Linked DNA regions of Homo sapiens: region 2 is linked to region 1. The links come from fine-mapping of genetic effects on gene expression. A gene starts in region 1. The other region holds a variant in brackets. All regions are shown on one strand. Distances are from middle to middle.

The links.
Region 2: its variant is fine-mapped to the expression of CUBN in unexposed skin (GTEx, PIP 0.92).

What each region holds. Positions count from the first base shown.
Region 1 is chr10:17,126,969-17,132,289 of GRCh38, forward strand. CUBN (cubilin) reads right to left here and starts at 2,843. Exons shown (of 67, transcript NM_001081.4): 1 at 2,676-2,843; 2 at 2,153-2,282; 3 at 861-956. The coding sequence starts at 2,797.
Region 2 is chr10:17,163,298-17,168,682 of GRCh38, forward strand. All of the region lies in intron 3 of TRDMT1 (tRNA aspartic acid methyltransferase 1), which reads right to left. Among named protein-coding and RNA genes, the nearest start is that of TRDMT1, 36 kb to the right of the region's middle. The variant G/A (reference allele first, on the strand shown) is at 3,342.

The sequences.
Region 1 (5,321 bases):
TTCCTATTCCCTCCTATCACATAGATTTCTGGGGTTTTTTTAAGTTTTTTTTTAAAGTACAACCCACTGATAAGTTGACCGATTGCTTCTCTGTAGGCAGTGACTATGGAAATGTTCATAAATGTCAGTGATGCATCCACTTCCCCAATAAGAAGATTGCTCTCAGAACTTCAGCAAGGCTTCTTTTCTTTCTTTCTTCCTTTCTTTCTTTCTCTCTCTCTCTTTCTTTCACTCTGTCTTTCTTTCTCTCTCTCTCTCTGTCTCTCTCTCTCTTTCTGTCTCTCTCTCTCTCTTTCTTTTTTTTTTTTTTTTTTTCTGGCAAGGTCCCACTCTGTTGCCTGGGCTGGAGCACAGTGGCATGATCATAGCTCACTGCAGTCTCAACCTCCCTGGCTCAAGCCATCCTCCCACTTCAGCCTCCCAAGTAGCTGTGAGTACAGGCTCATGCCACCATGCCCAGCTATTTTTTTTTTTTTTTTTTTTTTTGGTAGAGACGGAGTCTCACTATGTGGCCCAGGCTGGTCTCAAACTCCTAGGCTCAAGCGACCCTCCCTCTGTGGCCTCCCAAACTGCTGGGATTACAGGCAGTTTTTTATATTAATCATCCATTCACTTGCAGTGAGCCACTGCTCCCAGCCCAAGGCCTACTTCTGCAACAAGTGCTTGCACAGCATTTCCTGCCTTCTGTCCATCACTTCTACAGCCTCCATTACAGCTGTGTCATTTAACCAAACAGTGAGTAGTTACATGCTAAATCTCTAAAGAGCACACAAAGTTGGTATATCCCCTACAAAACGGTTACTTATACAATAGAACTAGGGAGAACTCATCGGTTCTTATGACGTAGATGTCAGACTTACCTTGGAATTAAGCTGATAGATTTGACTAGATATATTTTGAGGCAGACCAATTGCACTCCCTTTTAACTCTATAATATCTTCTTTGTTTTTCTGGATCTAATTTTAGAAAAAGAAGAAGAAATGAAGAGCACTAGTGAAAATATCATATTTATCTTTACAGTAACATAATTAAAAACTTGAGTAGTATTCTACTTTAAGCACTAAGATCTTGCCTATTATTATAAAAACCAAAACAACACCATGCGTAATAAACACTGGGCTAAAATAGCCACAGCATAATTCCACTTATCCTTTTCAGTAACAATAGATCAAGGTATTTTCCATTTGTATGTTTTCCTATAATACCAGTTTAGGGTGCTTATTAAGAAACCTGGCTTGGAAGCAGACTGTTTAGGTTTTAAGTCCTGGCTCAGCTATTTATTGCTGTCCTGGGCAAGTTACCTAACTGCTTCAGGGTTTCTTTACCTCTTGTAAAACTAGGGTGACAATAAAGGCCACCTCATAGGACAGCTGTGAAGGTCAAATGAGATAACATCCATACGGTGCTAAGCACAGTGGATGGCCCACAGTAAGCTCTGAATAATGCTGACTTCTAACATTATGACTGAAATATGCAGTGATTATTGGGAAATGAAAACACCCAGTAAGGCAGGAGAATAACTGGCCAATTCTGTTCTGTGGCAAAAGCAAACTGGTCACATGTCCACATATCCTTGGTCCCCTACTTCCTCGCATCCCCTGTGGAGGAGTTTCAGTTCCACCCTCCGTGCCTTCTCTGGACTAGGGTGCATTGTCTGGCACAATGAGCTTCTATCTTTTAGCATACTCCCTCTACCCACTATTAACCCCAGGCCATCGTCCTTTACAAGAACATGTCTGATGCCCAATTATGTTCTCTATGCTAAAGATTCAAGGTACACTAGGAAGGGGGAGGGAGGCTGAAGACAGGTTGATTAATGAATACAATATATAGTTAGATAGAAGAAATAAGACCTAGTGTTTGATAGACCAGTAGGGTGACTATAGTTAACATTAATCTATTGTACATTTCAAAATAACTAGAAGAGAACAATTCATATGTTCTTAGCATGAAGAAAAGGTAAATATTTAAGGTGATGGATATCCCAATTACCCTGATTTGAACTTTACACATTATAGGAATGTATCAAATTATGTATTAATAAAAAATAATAATTAAAAAAGATTCAAGGTACAGATTAATCTAGACTTGTTCAATTAAGTCACCGTATATGGATATACAAAATGACTTCAATATATTTCCAGTGTATTACCTGATGTAAACACTCACTGAGATCTTCATCATTTAATTTAATTTTTCCCAGGGATCCGGTTCTAAACTCAATGTTTTGAGCAGACCCCGTAAGAAACACCAAATTTCCTCTCTCTGTAGCCATTCGAGGCCTATATAATTCAAACGAGAGAATGCATCAGTAATTAGCAAGTACAATTTTTAAACCAAAATAACAAAGTTTCTTACTGAATAACTACAGGCCAAATACATCTTCACTTTTTGATCATCTCAACCCAACTGCCCCTGCTCATCTGCCACTTTTTTCTCTGCACATTTCTCAGAGATACCTCCTGGCAATTGCAAACAGATTATTTGCAAAATGACAGATAATAATTTGTGCATAGGAAAGTAATTTCATACCTCAGTCTAAATGTTTTTCCCTGTTTGCTTCTCAACATAATTTTCCTCAAGAAAAATTGCACCTTTGTTTATCTGGCTATTTGGGAAAACTGGTGAGGAATTAGCCTAGTCCCTGAGCAGGAATGACCCATGTGTTTACTTACTGTTGGAGATTGATGCTTCTTTTTTGTCTCTGCAGCTCAAGTTCTCCAGCTTCGCCATTTACTTCAGCAAATATTAATAAGGTAAGCAAACTCCAAAGAAAAGGTAAAGACATGTTCATCATCAACCTCCCAGGTTGGCAGGTAAGAGTGAGGCCACTCCAACCAACTGAGCATGGGATTTTGGAGAACAGCAAACCAGGCAGGTGTACTTTGAACCATGGAATATCCTGTAACTGTTGAGTTTTTTCTTCTTTGCCCTAGAAGGCTATGTTATTTTTTCTTCCAGAGGGATGTAAATGATCTTAGATCTTCAGTACTCTTCAACTTGTGAGAGGTCAAAATCTACCTTAAGTGATGCGCAACTTAATCATTATCTATTTGACCTTTGAAACAGTAACAAGCAGCTTTGAAAACATCCACTTAAACAATCTTTGCTTAAGAAGTAACTAGGTTTCAACAAAAGTAAACTGGTCATTATCTACACCTTTCTCTGTTCCCCTCCTTCCTCACCTCCCTTGCAGAGGAGTTCCACCTTTACCCAGCGCTAGGAAAACTAGATATCCACATGCAAAAGAAGTTGGAGGCTTACCTCATACCATATGCAAAAATTAACTCAAAAAAGTTCAAAGATCTAAATCTAAGAGCTAAAACTATAAAATTAACTCACAATGGTTCAAAAAATCTGAAACTATAACATAAAACTCAGAAGAATAGGACAAAAATTCATGACCTTGGATTTTGGATTTGGCAATGATTTCTTGAGTATGATACCAAAAGCATGGGCAAAAAAAGAAAAACACACAGACAACCAAAAGATATAAATTGGAATACATCAAAATTAAAAACGTTTGTGCATCAAAAAATACATCAACAGAGTGAAAAAGCAACTCCCAGAATGGAAGAAAATATTTGCAAATCATATATATATGAAAATGGGTTAATATCCAGAATGTACAAAGAATTTGTACTTTTTACTTTTTATCATCCCTGTGGGACCTATGGACGGCTGTGGAATCCATTCCCACTTTCCACACTGCGCTATACACCCTTCCAGCTGGATATATGGTTTGAGGACATGGAGCACTGATGTCCCCACTCACTCTGTGCTGGGACTACAGAAACCACTGAGAGTGATGAAAATATTCTACATTTCGATTGTAAAATCAACTATTGATGCACTCAGACTTTCCATGAGCACACAGACAAAACTGAATTTGAGGGAGAGCTGTAAAAATTTCACTTCTAAGAAAAATCTCTAGGTAATTACCATTGCATTGGTTAATACCCATGCAGGCTCTTTCAGGACAAGCCTGTTTGTGTTTTACTTATTTTGTGTCTTACTTATGTAGGCTCTTTGAGGAGAGGATCATTATGTACCATAGCTTATAATTCTTTACTTATGCCGGGCGCGGTGGCTCACGCCTGTAATCCCAGCACTTTGGGAGGCCGAGGCGGGCGGATCACGAGGTCAGGAGATCGAGAACATCCTGGCTAACGTGGTGAAACCCCGTCTCTACTACAAATACAAAAAATTAGCCGGGCTTAGTGGCGGGCGCCTGTAGTCCCAGCTACTCGGGAGGCTGAGGCAGGAGAATGGCGTGAACCCGGGAGGCGGAGCTTGCAGTGAGCTGAGATCATGCCACTGCACTCCAGCCTGGGGGACAGAGCGAGATGCCGTCTCAAAAACAAAACAAAACAAAAAAAAACTTTACTTGTGATACTCAAATAGTCACTGCTTTTAAAAATTTTTTTTAAACCTTCCCAATTTCTTCTATATGTCTCTTGTATCTGCTTCTTTCACTCAACATAATGCTTTTGTAATTCATCTGTGCTGTAGTGTATATCATTAATTGGTTCCCTTTTATTATTGAGTAGTATTTCATCATATGGCTATCCCACAGTTTGCTTCTCTACTCATCAGTTGATAAACACTTGAGTTATTTCCAGTTTGGGACTATTATAAATAAAGCTGTTATGAACATTTGTGAACAGGTCTTTGTGTCAACATAGGTATCTCATTACAATTTTAATTTATATTTCCCTAATGACCAAAGATGTTGGGCATCTTTTTATGTATATTTGCCATTTGTTTATCTTCTTCGGTGAACTGTCTGTTTAGATATTTTGCCTATTTTTTAAAATTTTGTTGTTTGTCTTTTATTGATTGTAAGAGCTCATATATTCTAGATACAAGAATTTTCAAATACGTATTTTGCAAATATTTTTCTGCCAACCTGTGGCAAGTCATTTTGCTTGCTTAAAAATATTTTTCAAGGACAACAATAAGACACAAAAGACTACTTCCTAAGTGATTCTATATCACATGATTCCATATGAAAATCTAAAAAAGCCAAAACTACACTGATTGATAGACAACAAATCAGAGGCCAGGGGTTGGGGAGGAGATTGATCGCAAGGAGGCATGAGGGAATATTTAAGGGTGATGAAAATGTTCTGTATCATGATTGTGATTGTGGTTGCATGACTGTATAAATTTGTCAAAACTCATAAAGCTGTATAGTTAAAATAGATAATCTTTGGCAGATGTAAATTACAGCACAATAAAACTGATTAAAATTATTTCTCTTCTATATTTGTAAATGTCTTCATATATCAGGATGATACAAAATATTAATTTGGTATTAA
Region 2 (5,385 bases), 36 kb after region 1:
TAGAGGATCAAGCAGAAATGAAGACTTGAATTGAGCCTGAGCAGCAGGAACAGAGGACCAGGGTTCAAAAGCATGTGTATAGAGGGAAATTTATAGCACTAAAAGCCCACAAGAGAAAACAGGAAAGATCTAAAATTTACACCCTAACATCACAATTAAAAGAACTAGAGAAGCAAGAGCAAACACATTCAAAAGCTAGGAGAAGGCAAGAAATAACTAAGATCAGAGTAGAACTGAAGGAAATAGAGACACAAAAAACCCTTCAAAAAATCAATGAATCCAGGAGCTGGTTTTTTGAAAAGATCAACAAAATTGATAGACCGCTAGCAAGACTAATAAAGAAGAGAGAAGAATCAAATAGATGCAATAAAAAATGATAAAGGGGATATCACCACCGACCCCACAGAAATACAAACTACCATCACAGAATACTATAAACACCTCTACACAAATAAACTAGAAAATCTAGAAGAAATGGATAAATTCCTCGACACATACACCCTCCCAAGACTAAACCAGGAAGAAGTTGAATCTCTGAATAGACCAACAACAGGCTTTGAAATTGAGGCAATAATTAATAGCTTACCAACCAAAAAAAAGTCCAGGACCAGACAGATTCACAGCCAAATTCTACCAGAGGTACAAAGAGAAGCTGGTACCATTCCTTCTGAAACTATTCCAATCAATAGAAAAAGAGGGAATCCTCCCTAACTCATTTTATAAGGCCAGCATCATCCTGATACCAAAGCCTGGCAGAGACACAACAAAAAAAGAGAATTTTAGACCAATATCCCTGATGAACATCGATGCAAAAATCCACAATAAAATACTGGCAAACCGAATCCAGCAGCACATCAAAAAGCTTATCCACCATGATCAAGTGGGCTTCATCCCTGGGATGCAAGGCTGGTTCAACACAAGCAAATCAATAAATGTAATCCAGCATATAAACAGAACCAACGACAAAAACCACATGATTATCTCAATAAATGCAGAAAAGACCTTTGACAAAACTCAACAACCCTTCATGCTAAAAACTCTCAATAAATTAGGTATTGATGGGACATATCTCAAAATAATAAGAGCTATCTATGACAAACCCACAGCCAATATCATACCGAATGGGCAAAAACTGGAAGCATTCCCTTTGAAAACTGGCACAAGACAGGGATGCCCTCTCTCATCACTTCTATTCAACATAGTGTTGGAAGTTCTGGCCAGGGCAATCAGGCAGGAGAAAGAAATAAAGGGCATTCAGTTAGGAAAAGAGGAAGTCAAATTGTCCCTGTTTGCAGATGACATGATTGTATATCTAGAAAAACCCATCATCTCGGCCCAAAATCTCCTTAAGCTGACAAGCAACTTCAGCAAAGTCTCAGGATACAAAATCAATGTGCAAAAATCACAAGCATTCTTATACACCAATAAAAGACAAACAGAGAGCCAAATCATGAGTGAACTCCCATTCACAATTGCTTCAAAGAGAATAAAATACCTAGGAATCCAACTTACAAGGGATGTGAAGGACCTCTTCAAGAAGATCTACCAATCACTGCTCAATGACATAAAAGAGGATACAAACAAATGGAAGAACATTCCATGCTCAGGGATAGGAAGAATCAATATTGTGAAAATGGCCACATTGCCCAAGGTAATTTATAGATTCAATGCCATCCCCATCAAGCTACCAATGATTTTCTTCACAGAATTGGAAAAAACCAATTTAAAGTTCATATGGAACCAAAAAAGAGCCCACATTGCCAAGTCAATCCTAAGCCAAAAGAACGAAGCTGGAGGCATCACGCTACCTGACTTGAAACTATACTACAAGGCTACAGTAACCAAAACAGCATGGTACTGGTACCAAAACAGAGATATAGATCAATGGAACAGAACAGAGCCCTCAGAAATAATGCCACTTATCTACAACTATCTGATCTTTGACAAACCTGACAAAAACAAGAAATGGGGAAAGGATTCCCTATTTAATAAATGGTGCTGGCAAAACTGGCTAGCCATATGTAGAAAGCTGAAACTGGATCCCTTCCTTACACCTTATACTAAAATTAATTCAAGATGGATTAAAGACTTAAATGTTAGACCTAAAACCATAAAACCCTAGAAGAAAACCTAGGCAATACCATTCAGGACATAGGCATGGGCAAGGACTTTATGTCTAAAACACCAAAAGCAATGGCAACAAAAGCCAAAATTGACAAATGGGATCTAATTAAACTAAAGAGCTTCTGCACAGCAAAAGAAACTACCATCAGAATGAACAGGCAACCTACAGAATGGGAGAAAATTTTTGCAATCTACTCATCTGACAAAGGGCTAATATCCAGAATCTACAATGAACTCAAAACAAATTTACAAGAAAAAAACAAAAAACCCCATCAAAAAGTGAGCAAAGGATATGAACAGACACTTCTCAAAAGAAGACATTTATGCAGCCAAAAGACACATGAAAAAATGCTCATCATCACTGGCCATCAGAGAAATGCAAATCAAAACTACAATGAGATACCATCTCACACCAGTTAGAATGGCAATCATTAAAAACTCAGGAAACAACAGGTGCTGGAGAGGATGTGGAGAAATAGGAACACTTTTACACTGTTGGTGGGACTGTAAACTAGTTCAACCATTGTGGAAGTCAGTGTGGGGATTCCTCAGGGATCTAGAACTAGAAATACCATTTGACCCTGCCATCCCATTACTGGGTATATACCCAAAGGATTATAAATCGTGCTGCTATAAAGACACATGCACACGTATGTTTATTGTGGCACTATTCACAATAGCAAAGACTTGGAACCAACCCAAGTGTCCAACAATGATAGACTAGATTAAGAAAATGTGGCACATATACACCATGGAATACTATGCAGCCATAAAAAGGATGAGTTCATGTCCTTTGTAGGGACATGGATGAAGCTGGAAACCATCATTCTCAGCAAACTATCACAAGGACAAAAAACCAAACACCGCAAGTTCTCACTCATAGGTGGGAATTGAACAATCAGAACACATGGACACAGGACGGGGAACATCACACACCGGGGCCTGTTGTGGGGTGGGGGGAGGGAGGAGGGATAGCATTAGGAGATATACCTAATGTAAATGATGAGTTAATGGGTGCAGCACACCAACATGGCACACGTATACATATGTAACAAACATGCACGTTGTGCACATGTACCCTAAAACTTAAAGTATAATAATAAAAAAAAAGCATGCTATTTATCTTCAGAGTCTTAAATAAGTTAGCTGGCATCATTGGTCAGTTTCCTCATACCTGATGGCAGGACCAAAACCATCAGTGGATCTGAGGTTCAGCT[G/A]TGGGATTAGACTGGATGTGAACAGACTTCTCAGAAATCTTCAGTTCTTATTTGTCCTTTCCTGTCAGACTTTCACATGAGGACTACAGAATCAGTTACTCCTGCCATCAGCAGCTGGAGCTGTGCTAAGACAAGGGGGAGGTGGGAGTAGGAAAGCTACGGGGCCCTCTGCAGTATTACCTGAGGCTTCACAGAGCTGGAGCTGCATTCCGCTGTGTATATCCTGCTCACTGTACTCCACAGGCCACACTCTTGCACGTGCCTAGAGCCACCCTGAGATGGAATGGCCTCTGCCTGCTCTGATATACTCCTAATCTACCTCCAGACACAGTTCAGACATCACCTCTGAAAGAATTCCCTTCTCTTGGTATGCAGCAAGCCCTTTTCTCCTCTGTACTCCTGTGACACTTTCAGCATTCTTTTATTATATAGCTTATAAGATAATTTAAGATAACATTATAAGATAATTATTTGTCAGCCATTCCCATTAGACTATGAGCTCCCAAAGGACAGGAACTACAGCATCAAAAATAATGCCTGGCTTGTAGGTGAACCACAAATCCTTGGGAAATTCATTTCCTAGAGAATTGTTTAAATAAATCCAAATGTAGATGGAAATTTGGCATTAGAATATTCATTCACTGAATTAGACTGGTTATTACATATGATATTCTACTTAAAATCATGGAATATATAAAATGATTAACAAATCTTGGCTCTGACATTCTTTAATTGTATATCCTTGAGAAAGTTAACCTTTCTATGCCCCAGTTTCTCATCTGTAAAATCATTGTAACAGCAATGGCTACCCCATAAGCTTGTTAAATTAAATGACATCCTCTGCATAAGACACAGACACTTAGAGGATTACTACTGCTATTTTCATTTAAAATAATCCAAAATACTCTTATTAAAAATATCTAAATGAAAATCAATTAGTCAAGATTTGGTCGAAGATATAATTTCCTGAAACATATAGCCAAATATATATATACACACATATATATAATTTTTTAAATGAAGAGTTTATAACGTTGCTATGAAAAGTCAGAATTATTCAATGTACATATGAATTTTAAGAAATGTAAAGTTCACAAGTGCATGCTTAACTAGCTTTTAAATTGTACAATTAAGCAATTTAGGACTTGAATATTTATTGTGGAAATTCACTTTGCTTAATCAGTATTAGAAAGATATTCTTGAATGCTCATTAGTTTAAATGAATTAAGGTACTTTGGGCTGGAAATAAACATTGTGTCTTAGGTAAGTATAAAAGAGGTATCCTACAGTCTTGCATATCTACTTTTGACCAAATTAATTTGCTCATCTGGTAGCAACTGCTATTTCCTTTGTGATTAATGCTTAATTATAAATATGAATGGAGGCTGGGCATGGTGGCTCCGTGTATAATCCCAGCACTTTGGGAGGTCGAGGTGGGAGGATAGCTTGAGCCCAGGGCTTTTAGGCCAGCCGTGGCAACATAGTGAGACGCCATCTCTACCAAAAATTTAAAAATTAGCTGGGCATGGAAGTACATACCTTTAGTCCCAGCTACTCAGGAGGCTGAGGCAGGAGGATTGCTTGAACCTGGGAGATTGAGGCTGCAGGGAGCTGTGATCATGCCACTGCACTGCAGCCTGGGTGACAGAGCAAGACCCTGTCCCAATAATTATTATTATTTAAAAATAAATAAATACATACATAAGTAGATAGAAGGATTTATGAAAAAATTTCCGAACTATGAAATGCAGCTAATAAACTTCAGAGTGTCCATGTTTGACACTACAGTATGATCTGATTTAGTAAGTCCTTCAAAAGCACTTTCTCTACACTTGATATGGTTTGGCTGTGTCCCCATCCAAATCTCATCTTGAATTTCCACGTGTTGTGGGACGGACCCGGTGGGAGGTAACGGAATCATGGGGGCAGGTCTCTGCTGTGCTGTTCTTGTGACAGTGAATAAGTCTCATGAGATCAGATGGTTCTATAAAGGGCAGTTTCCCTGCACAACATCTCTCTCTTTACCTGCTGCCCGTGACTTGTT